Linked DNA regions of Homo sapiens: region 1 is linked to region 2. Evidence: fine-mapped QTL for protein levels in blood plasma. A gene starts in region 2. The other region holds a variant in brackets. All regions are shown on one strand. Distances are from middle to middle. Region 1 overlaps PON1 (paraoxonase 1). Region 2 holds the start of PON1 (paraoxonase 1).

Region 1 (4,398 bases), 16 kb before region 2:
TACAGTGTTAATACGTCTTACCTTCAATGGAGTTAAAGTCCAATTAGCATGCTTTTCATACACATGAATCTTATGAGCCAGCAACTCAGCTATATAGACATACCTTCAAAGAAGAAAGAGCTACATCAAAGTACTAGAAGTAACACAACTTGAGAGATTAAGATGAAGTTGTAATACCTATTCATAGGGAAGAACTTTGCTTAAGGAATGGAAAATGGAACCCACCTCAAACACACCAAATTCTGAAAGAACTCAGTGAGTTTACAGTGACAGAGGGGTTTAATCTCTGAAAAGTTGTTTCTGAAGGAGGGGACATAGTTGTCCTTATCAGTATGGGAGGAACTTAGCCCTAACACTAACTTTTAGTATCTGGGAGTAAAATGCATTACAGCGTTTCTCTTTTGGTTTGACAATTTAGTGTCAAGGCCCAGGTTCTGCATTTCAGGGGCTAGTGAGTTCTCTCTCGGGAAAGTTGCAGGAAAGCCCTTGGACAACAGCCCCTTGTTTTAATCCAGAGAAAATATGAGAGAAGAAAAGCTGCTTGGCTTGGATCAAGAGAAGTCTTCCTCCTCTTCTGCCCTGAGTGTGGTCCTGACCCTGTGGCTTTAGTCATACCCCACAAAGATCTGGGGTTAGTCTAAGCACTGTGCATCCCCCCAACAAAAAAAAGAAATTACTGCTCAATTATCTTCTATTTTTTGAAAACTGGTCTATGATATGAATAATTAAAAGCTGTCCCTGTCCCTGTTGCTCTCACTTGCTTGCTTGCTTGCTTTTTCTTTTCTTTCTTTCTTTCTTTTTTTTTTTTTTAAAAAAAAACAGAGTCTTGCTCTGTCACCCACGCTGGAGTGCAGTGGTGCAATCTCAGCTCACTGCAACCTCCACCTCCCAGGTTCAAGCAATTCTCCTGCCTGGCCTCCCTGGTAGCTGGGATTACAGGAGTGCGCCACCACGCCTGGCTAATTTTTGTATTTTTAGTAGAGATGGGGTTTCGCCATGATGGCCAGGCTGGTCTATGACCTCAGGTGATCCACCCACCTTGGCCTCCCGAAGTGCTAGGATTACAGGCATGAACCACCACACCTGGCCCCTGTTGCTTTCTCTAAGCATATGTTACGGACTCTAAAATCCTTGATGATGACACAAGATGAGAAAGGGCATATATGTGGATGGATATAGATATTTCATGTATATACCAATGCTACCCAAAATGCAGTCTCCAGACCAATGTTGGTTTGCAAATTGTTTGTTATAGCTCACCATGAGATAACATTATAAATCAAATACATCACTAAGCACACTGCTTAGTTAAACTGACTTGTTTTTCACAGTAATACTTTCTTGATGAAGGAAGTATTGCCTTGATTTACATTTTGGTACAAATTCCTCATCTTGTCATAAACCTGCACTACTGACGTATCTATACCTGCATACTATTCAACTCATTATACACTCACATCTTTACTCAAAACAAAGCTATTCAGACATATCAAATCTTCATCACAGTTCCCCCTCTTAAAATGTACTTTCTTTCCAAAAAGGAAATAAAACCAGTATGCCTTCACAATGAAATTTTTGATTTGATAAATTTCACCCCCTGAAAAATTAAGACATTTTACATTTTTCCTAATTTTATCTCACTAGGGTAACATGTTAAAATGTATCATATTACTTAAAAAAAGAATATATTCCAAGATATCTCCTGAGAATCTGAGTAAATCCACTACATTTCAGAGAGTTCACATACTTGCCATCGGGTGAAATGTTGATTCCATTAGCAAAATCAAATCCTTCTGCCACCACTCGAACTTCACTTGGACTATAGTAGACAACATACGACCAC[G/A]CTAAACCCAAATACATCTCCCAGGATTGTAAGTAGGGGTCAAGAAAATAGTGATCATTTGTGCCATAAAAGTGCTCAGGTCCCACAGCAACAATATCATTCAAACTGCAATTAAAACATACACACATAATATATAAGGTGAAGGTATTGAACATTACAGGATTATTAACTGGCATTCCTCACTGTCTATTCCTAAAATCAAGATGTGGGATGGAGCCTTCGTGCTAGCTATAATGGAACACAATTAATATGAAATTAGTCCTGCCGATACAATCCTTAGACAATCATTGGTCTAAGAAATCTGAGGAGGTGATTATAGCACTGTAACATAAAAATCCTATTATATGTATCTTAAAATAGTGTTACGTCGTGTGTGTGTGTGTGTGTGTGTGTGTGTGTGTGTGTATCTGTGTGTGTCTGTGTGTAAATACACTAAATTCAGTAGAAATTAAATTAAGCCAGAAATCATTGTCAGGGCAAAAATGTGCTCACATATCTGGGCTCACATAGAACTAACTCCCATAAGAAATTGAAAAAATGCTGAACCAGCAGCCTGGATACTTGCATTTTAGTTTAAGCTCTGCTACTATTAGCTGTGTGATCTAAGAAAAATCAATCTTTTCACATGTCAGGACCTCAGTTTTCTTATCTGTGAAAGCAGGATGATAGACTGGTTGATCTTCCAGCCTTAAGATTTCGTGATTCTAAACTGAATGAAATGTCCATGAACAAGAATGCTCAGAAATAGAATGCTATGGCTTTTTTTTTTTCCTTTCTGATTAGGATTCTCTGTTACTGAAAATGTAAGATATATGAGTCTATTTTTCTGCTTTAATGGATACAATAGGGAACACATAAGTGAGTCATTCTTTGCTGATTGAGGTGATGGAAGTTCCCCAGGGCATGATCTGGGAGAAAATTATCTCTGCTCTATTGCAGAGGCGTCATGGCCAGCGCATCAGCTCTGACGCAGCTCTGAGCTCTCAGGCAAGTTAGACAGGCATGCAGAGCCTCAGTTTTCTCATCTGTAAAGAGAGGTTAAATGATATTCTCAAAATCATACAGCTCATTAGTAGAAAACTAAGGGTCAGGATCTTAATTTGTGGAGTTGCAGTGGGAATTACAATGAGACAATGCCTGTTGTGTGCTTTGCAGGGAGCATGACATTCAATAAACCCTCAATCAATGCTAGCCACTATTACAACATGAAAAAAAAAAAAAGGTCTCGGAATTTAGGATTAGTCTGGATGGGCTCCAGACATAAATCTACAATCTGATTTTACTCTCTCTTTTTTAAAAGTAAATTTCTTAAATTAGTATGCTGGACTATCATTTGTCTGTTTTTCACAGAAAGGGGCAGAGTGGAATGGTTTAGAGCAATAGCTTTTTATTGCTGAAAATTTACTACCCCCAGGTGTAGTAAAATAAGTAAATAAATAACAAATTTTTAAAGGGTAATAGAGTAATAGCTTTGAAATCTGATGGACTTCATTTGCATCCTGACACTGCTTGCTATCCTTATAATGTGGGGCCACAGCATTGTCACTAAATTTTGAGCCACTATTCTGAACCTCTGTTTTCTCTGTATACCTTGAAAGGCTAGAGTAAGAATACAATGAAATAATGAATGCAAAGGCCTTCACACCATGCCTGGCATACAGTAAATGACCAATAATAACAGTTGTGATATATGAATAATAACAAGTTTAAATTATAATAGATTTAGTTATTGGAATATTAATGTTATAAAAAACCATAAAATACAAAGAAGAAAATACACACAGCTAATCCTTGGATTGAGAGAGCAGAACTCTAGTTAATTACGGCACCGTGGTTATTTTCAGTCTCCAATGCTGCCTAAGACCAATATTTTTGCAACTGGCTCAAGAAAAAAATACTCCAATCCGGTAACGTAGACCAATCTGAGATTTCCAAGATTAAATGTTAAAACACATAATTTTTTTCACTATTTTGTAGAGGTTTAAAGCACCAGCTCTGAACTCATGTTACCAGGATTAGAATCACAGCTGCACCATTTACTGATGATGTCATCTGGGGAAACTTAACAATTAGTCCAGGCCTCAACTTTTTAAAAATCCAAAATGGATATAATAATAACACCTAATTCAGAAGGTATTTGTAAAACATCAATAAAATAATCTGTTTGAATTAGTTAGTGTAGCACCTGACTTACAGAGAAAGCTCATTTATTAGTGTTATCATTTGCCCAGCTTCTCCATTCTACATACTGTTCTCTACTTTAAATCTTGGTGTTCCTCACATTCTCCACTCAGTGACCTTATTCTCTCTCCAAAATATATTTGTTAAATAAATGCACGAATAAACTCTTCCACCAAAAGCTGTTCTCTGAACTTTTATTCATCTTGATGGGGCAGAAGATGACCTGAGCTGGGGTTCCTACTTGGCCACTAGTGAGTTGATTGGCCTTCATCCAGTAACTCAATTTCTCTCCAATCTCATTTTCCTCATCCTCAAACCACCAGATAAGAAAGAAGAGGAAGGGGTCCTGGTAACACAGAGTGCACACTACATAC
Region 2 (4,402 bases):
CTGTCAGTTTTTGTTCTTTTGCTCCCAGTAGACTTTAAAATTGGTGAGTGAATACTGCAACCTATTCATTCCTATAACCTCCAGCAGAAACACAACGTTTGCAAAGAGAAGGTACTCTGCAGATGTCCACTGAAGTGTTTTGTGGAGATACTAGGCAAGTACATCAGACTGAGAAGATGGTGTTGGTTGCATTCATAGGGGAGACTGGAGGGTTGGAGGATTATTTGTCCTTATCTCAGACTTTCAATGAAGTATGATTATAATACATATTCAAGTATCACTCTATATTTTTGAGATCACATATGACAGCTATAAAAGCTAACGTTTACAGGACATCTGCTATATGCCTGATTTTTATATATATATATATACTTAGTTTTATTTATATGTTTTATATAAATATAAATATATGTATGTGTGTGTGTGTGTGTGTGTATATATATATATATATGCTGTAATATGTATTATTATCCCCTAATTTTCGGGTGGAGAAACTGGCTGGAACTTTTCTGGAATAAAGTGGTAAAATAACTTGAAAGTTGCAGAAATGATATCTAACCCAGGTCATCAGGAATCCACAACTACTCTCTTCCCACAACTGTGTGTTGCCTACAGTAAGCATGGAATGGCAGAAATGCATCGAGAGGCCCAACGTTAGCTTTGTGGTTTCCTTCTGAGAAGGGAAACTCAGTGGACTCACGTATTGCAATTAGCAATGTAGGGACAAGGAAGTTGCCATACAGATGCTGCAACATTCCATAGCCCAAGTTGGGGTAGGGGAGGGGAGCTGTTTCTACCATCATCCAAGGCATTCCCTGGACTTGTGCGGCACATACAGCCGACTACAAAGGTGGGAGACTCGTGGGTGGGAGACTCGTGGTCTAGGGGAACTCTCTCAGTTCTTTTCTCTGTACTGCTCCCACCTGGGAAACTCAGAAATCTCTTGAGGCATCCCTTGTGTGCTTCCTTAAGTTCCCTCCAGCCCAGGCATATATAGCTTCCTGTGAGCCGCACACACATACACTCCAAGTCTGAAGAAAAAAGGATGCATCTATCCTGGGGATTTGGCTTGCTCCTGATGCAGGCCTCATGATATCATCTCTTGCCTTCTCTCCCTGGGGCAGATTCATGATCTCTAATCCCCCAGGGAGTTTGTTCCATGACGCTGGTTCTGATTCAATAGTGTGGGGTAGGGCTTGAGATTCTGCCTGTACAGGGAGCCCCTAGGTGATGCTCAGGCATCTGGTCCCCAGACCCAGTTGAGTAGCTAGGTTTTAGGGGTTTCCAACAGTGGGTAAAATTTCCCTTCCTTCCTCTGTCTGGGTCACTCCAGGAGGCTCAGCAACCCATCCTTTATCTATATATTTTTATCTATACCTATAATCTCCTTTGGCAGCCACCAGCACTGTGATTAATAAAAACTCACAAACTGTAATTTTTACATGATTTAAAAGCCAAGAATACCAACTGCTTCTTACTTTTTTTCTGCACTCTGTAACTTAAAAAAATTAGAAAAACATCCACAATAAATAGTAAAAACCCATTCTGAATGTAAGCTTCTAATTAGTCCATAAGCTCATATAATTTTTTTATATTTAATTTTTATTAGGTTTTACTTTAAAGTAAATAAGGCATTGTTGACTAAGCCTTAGAGACTAGGATGATCTGTAGACTTTGAACTCCTGTTAAAAGTTATGAAACTTTTGATACATTCTTAAAATATCCCCACCCCCCTTGTATAGCACTTAACCCTTTATTAAATACTTTAAAGGGAAGCAGGGAACTAACATTTATTGAATAGCTACTCTGTCGCAGGCAGTGTGTATTACTATTTCCAGTTTACTGAAGCAGCTAAGGTTAGAGATGTAAAGTGATTTGCCCAAATCGCATACTCATGGGGCAGAGCTAAACCCCAGGACATCAGATGCTGGCTCCAGGGTTCCCTCTTCCCCGCCTGCCCCCACTGAAGCGAACCATCACAGCACACGTTAGCTCCACCTGCTCGGGTCCACACGCAGTTTTGCTGTGGCCCTCAGTAGCCTCAATTTGAGAATCTTCAAGCCTGGAAGGTTTGCCATGGCCAGGCAGTCAAGGCGCAGAAGCGACAGGGGCTCCTTTCTCTAATACACAAAATATCAGGAGAACCCCCAGCCAGGTTAGTTTGTTTCTTTCCAGGTTGAGAAGTGAATCTGTAGCCAGGGCACACAAATCTTCATGAAAAATTAATTCGTGTATGCTGACAACCTGGGCACTCACACCCCTGGCAATTGCCTCCTTATCCCATGTCTCAGGCCATGAGCAAGAGTTTGTTTTCAAGTGACACATGACGGCTGGACAAACATTTATGAAACCCCCGCAGAGTGTGCATCTAGCACCTGCTTGTAAATGTTCTGTTAACAGCCTGGACCCAACTTTCTGGGGGCTCGTGGAGCTGGCAGGGAGTGAGGAGGACGAAGGCTGCAGCCCTCACCACAACCCAACTTACTGGTAAGAAGACTGGTGGTTCCTGAAGAGTGCCAGTCCCATCCCCAAGAGGGTGAGCGCAATCAGCTTCGCCATGGTCGGGGATAGACAAAGGGATCGATGGGCGCAGACACCGACGGGCTAGGAGGCTCTGCCTGCCTGCAGCCGCAGCCCTGCTGGGGCAGCGCCGATTGGCCCGCCCCGCCCCTCCCCGCCGGGTCGGCAGCTAGCTGGGCCGACCAGGTGCACAGAAGGCGTGGCTTGCGGTCAGCCCCCACCGCAGGAGCTCAGCACTTTCAGCCAAAAGTCCCATTTTGCTCCTTCCAACTGTAAAGAGAGAAGACAGAGAATAGGTGCCTAGTCCAGTCGGGGAGGGGAAATCAAACAAGCTGAAGTAAATTGCCATGGGAAAGGACAGTCAAGCTTTGGTGAGCACTCACTTTGTGCCATCCCGGTCCTTGCGTCTCAGAGAGATTCAGTAGCTTGATCATGGTGACAGCCAAAAAGGTGCGGAAGGGAGGGCTGTAGTAGGAACCCCTAAGATCTAACTGTTCTCACCAGGCTACTACTCTGTGTCACCTTCCAACATCTGGATTTCAAGCATTTTTCTCTCAACACCACTCTGACTTTAGAGTTCACTCAAGTACATCCCCCACACAGCTCATTCATTTCCTCATGCAGCTGGCATTTATTGAGTACCTACTATGTGCCAGGCGCTGTTCTAGATGCTACAGAACAGGACAAAACGTCTTCCTCAAGCTTACGTTCATTCCAATGGGGGGAGTCAATTGAGAAATCAGCAAAACATGTCACTGTGGCATATATAATGCTCTAGGTGATGCATGTGTGTGTTATGGATATGCACATATGTTATGGAGAAAACACATAAAGCAAGAAAGGGGATAAGGAATACCCTCTGCTGAAGAATAGCAGTCAGAGAAGTTCTCACTGATAATGGGGCATTTGAGTAAAGACCCAAAGGAGGTGCCTCTGTACAACCATGTCTCTCTTCTCTGCTGTCTGCTGTTACTGTGAATGATTTGCTCCATGTCTCTTTCCTTCTCAAGGCTTTTGGTCCCAGTTATACCTTCTCTCTTCTGCAATATCTGTCCTTTCATCTCTTGTGGAATATTGCCAGCCAATACCAACATGCTTTACTTATCACCTTTAGCTTTCTGGGGGGAAGCTTCTTTGGCCTCACATTGTAACTACTGCCCTCTCTCTCTGCTCCTTCTGAACACTTGCTCTTAAGCCTTGAGCTACTATGTAAAAAACCTGACCACTCCACTGGAGCATTCACATGAAAGGCCATGAACATATGGAGAGGGAAAGTGGTCAGCTGAAGCCAACCTCTTAACCATCGGCACCAAGGAAGCAGAAATGAATGAAGTGGGCTATTAGACAAGCCCAGCCACCACAGCCTGGCCACCAACTGAATACCACTGGCTAAGCCACCCTGGTTAACACCAGGTGGAGCAGAAGAATCTACCTAAGAAGTAGAACCAATGAATCCAAAAGAGAAGAGTATTCGAAAAGAGGGGGAATGATGATCTGTGTCCAATGTGGCTATGAGTTGAGTATGCTTATGGCAGAGAAGTAACTACTGAATTAGATAACATGGATACAATAGGTGGTTTAATAAGAACAAATTCTACACGAGTCAAAAGAACACAAACCATATTAGAATGGGTTAAGGTGAGAATGGAAGATTGGAGATATTTCACAAGGTTAGCTGCTAAACCAAACAATCATTTTCTTATGCTCATAAACAGTGCATAAGGAATTTGGGCAGGGCCCAGCAGGCTACCTGGTTGACATGCCCACTGGGGTGTTTAACAGTCTTTTCAAAATGTGTCCAAAGGAAAACTCTTAATCCCCCCTGCCCAAACTCACACTTCAATAAATGGCATCACTACCATCCAGTTGCTCAAGTCCAAAA

The links. PIP is the chance, under the fine-mapping model, that this variant and not a neighbour inherited with it causes the effect. The UK Biobank Pharma Proteomics Project read protein levels with antibody pairs (Olink). The fine-mapping took linkage between variants from a reference panel, not from the people measured, so its PIPs are less certain.
Region 1: its variant is fine-mapped to the plasma level of the PON1 protein (UK Biobank, PIP above 0.99). The variant lies in the coding sequence of PON1. If it changes the protein, the assay may bind it differently, which can mimic a change of level.

What each region holds. Positions count from the first base shown.
Region 1 is chr7:95,306,264-95,310,661 of GRCh38, forward strand. PON1 (paraoxonase 1) reads right to left here. Exons shown (of 9, transcript NM_000446.7): 6 at 1,748-1,948; 7 at 22-103. Among named protein-coding and RNA genes, the nearest start is that of PON1, 16 kb to the right of the region's middle. The variant G/A (reference allele first, on the strand shown) is at 1,844.
Region 2 is chr7:95,321,917-95,326,318 of GRCh38, forward strand. PON1 (paraoxonase 1) reads right to left here and starts at 2,616. Exons shown (of 9, transcript NM_000446.7): 1 at 2,486-2,616. The coding sequence starts at 2,559. RefSeq lists a silencer at 2,560-2,739.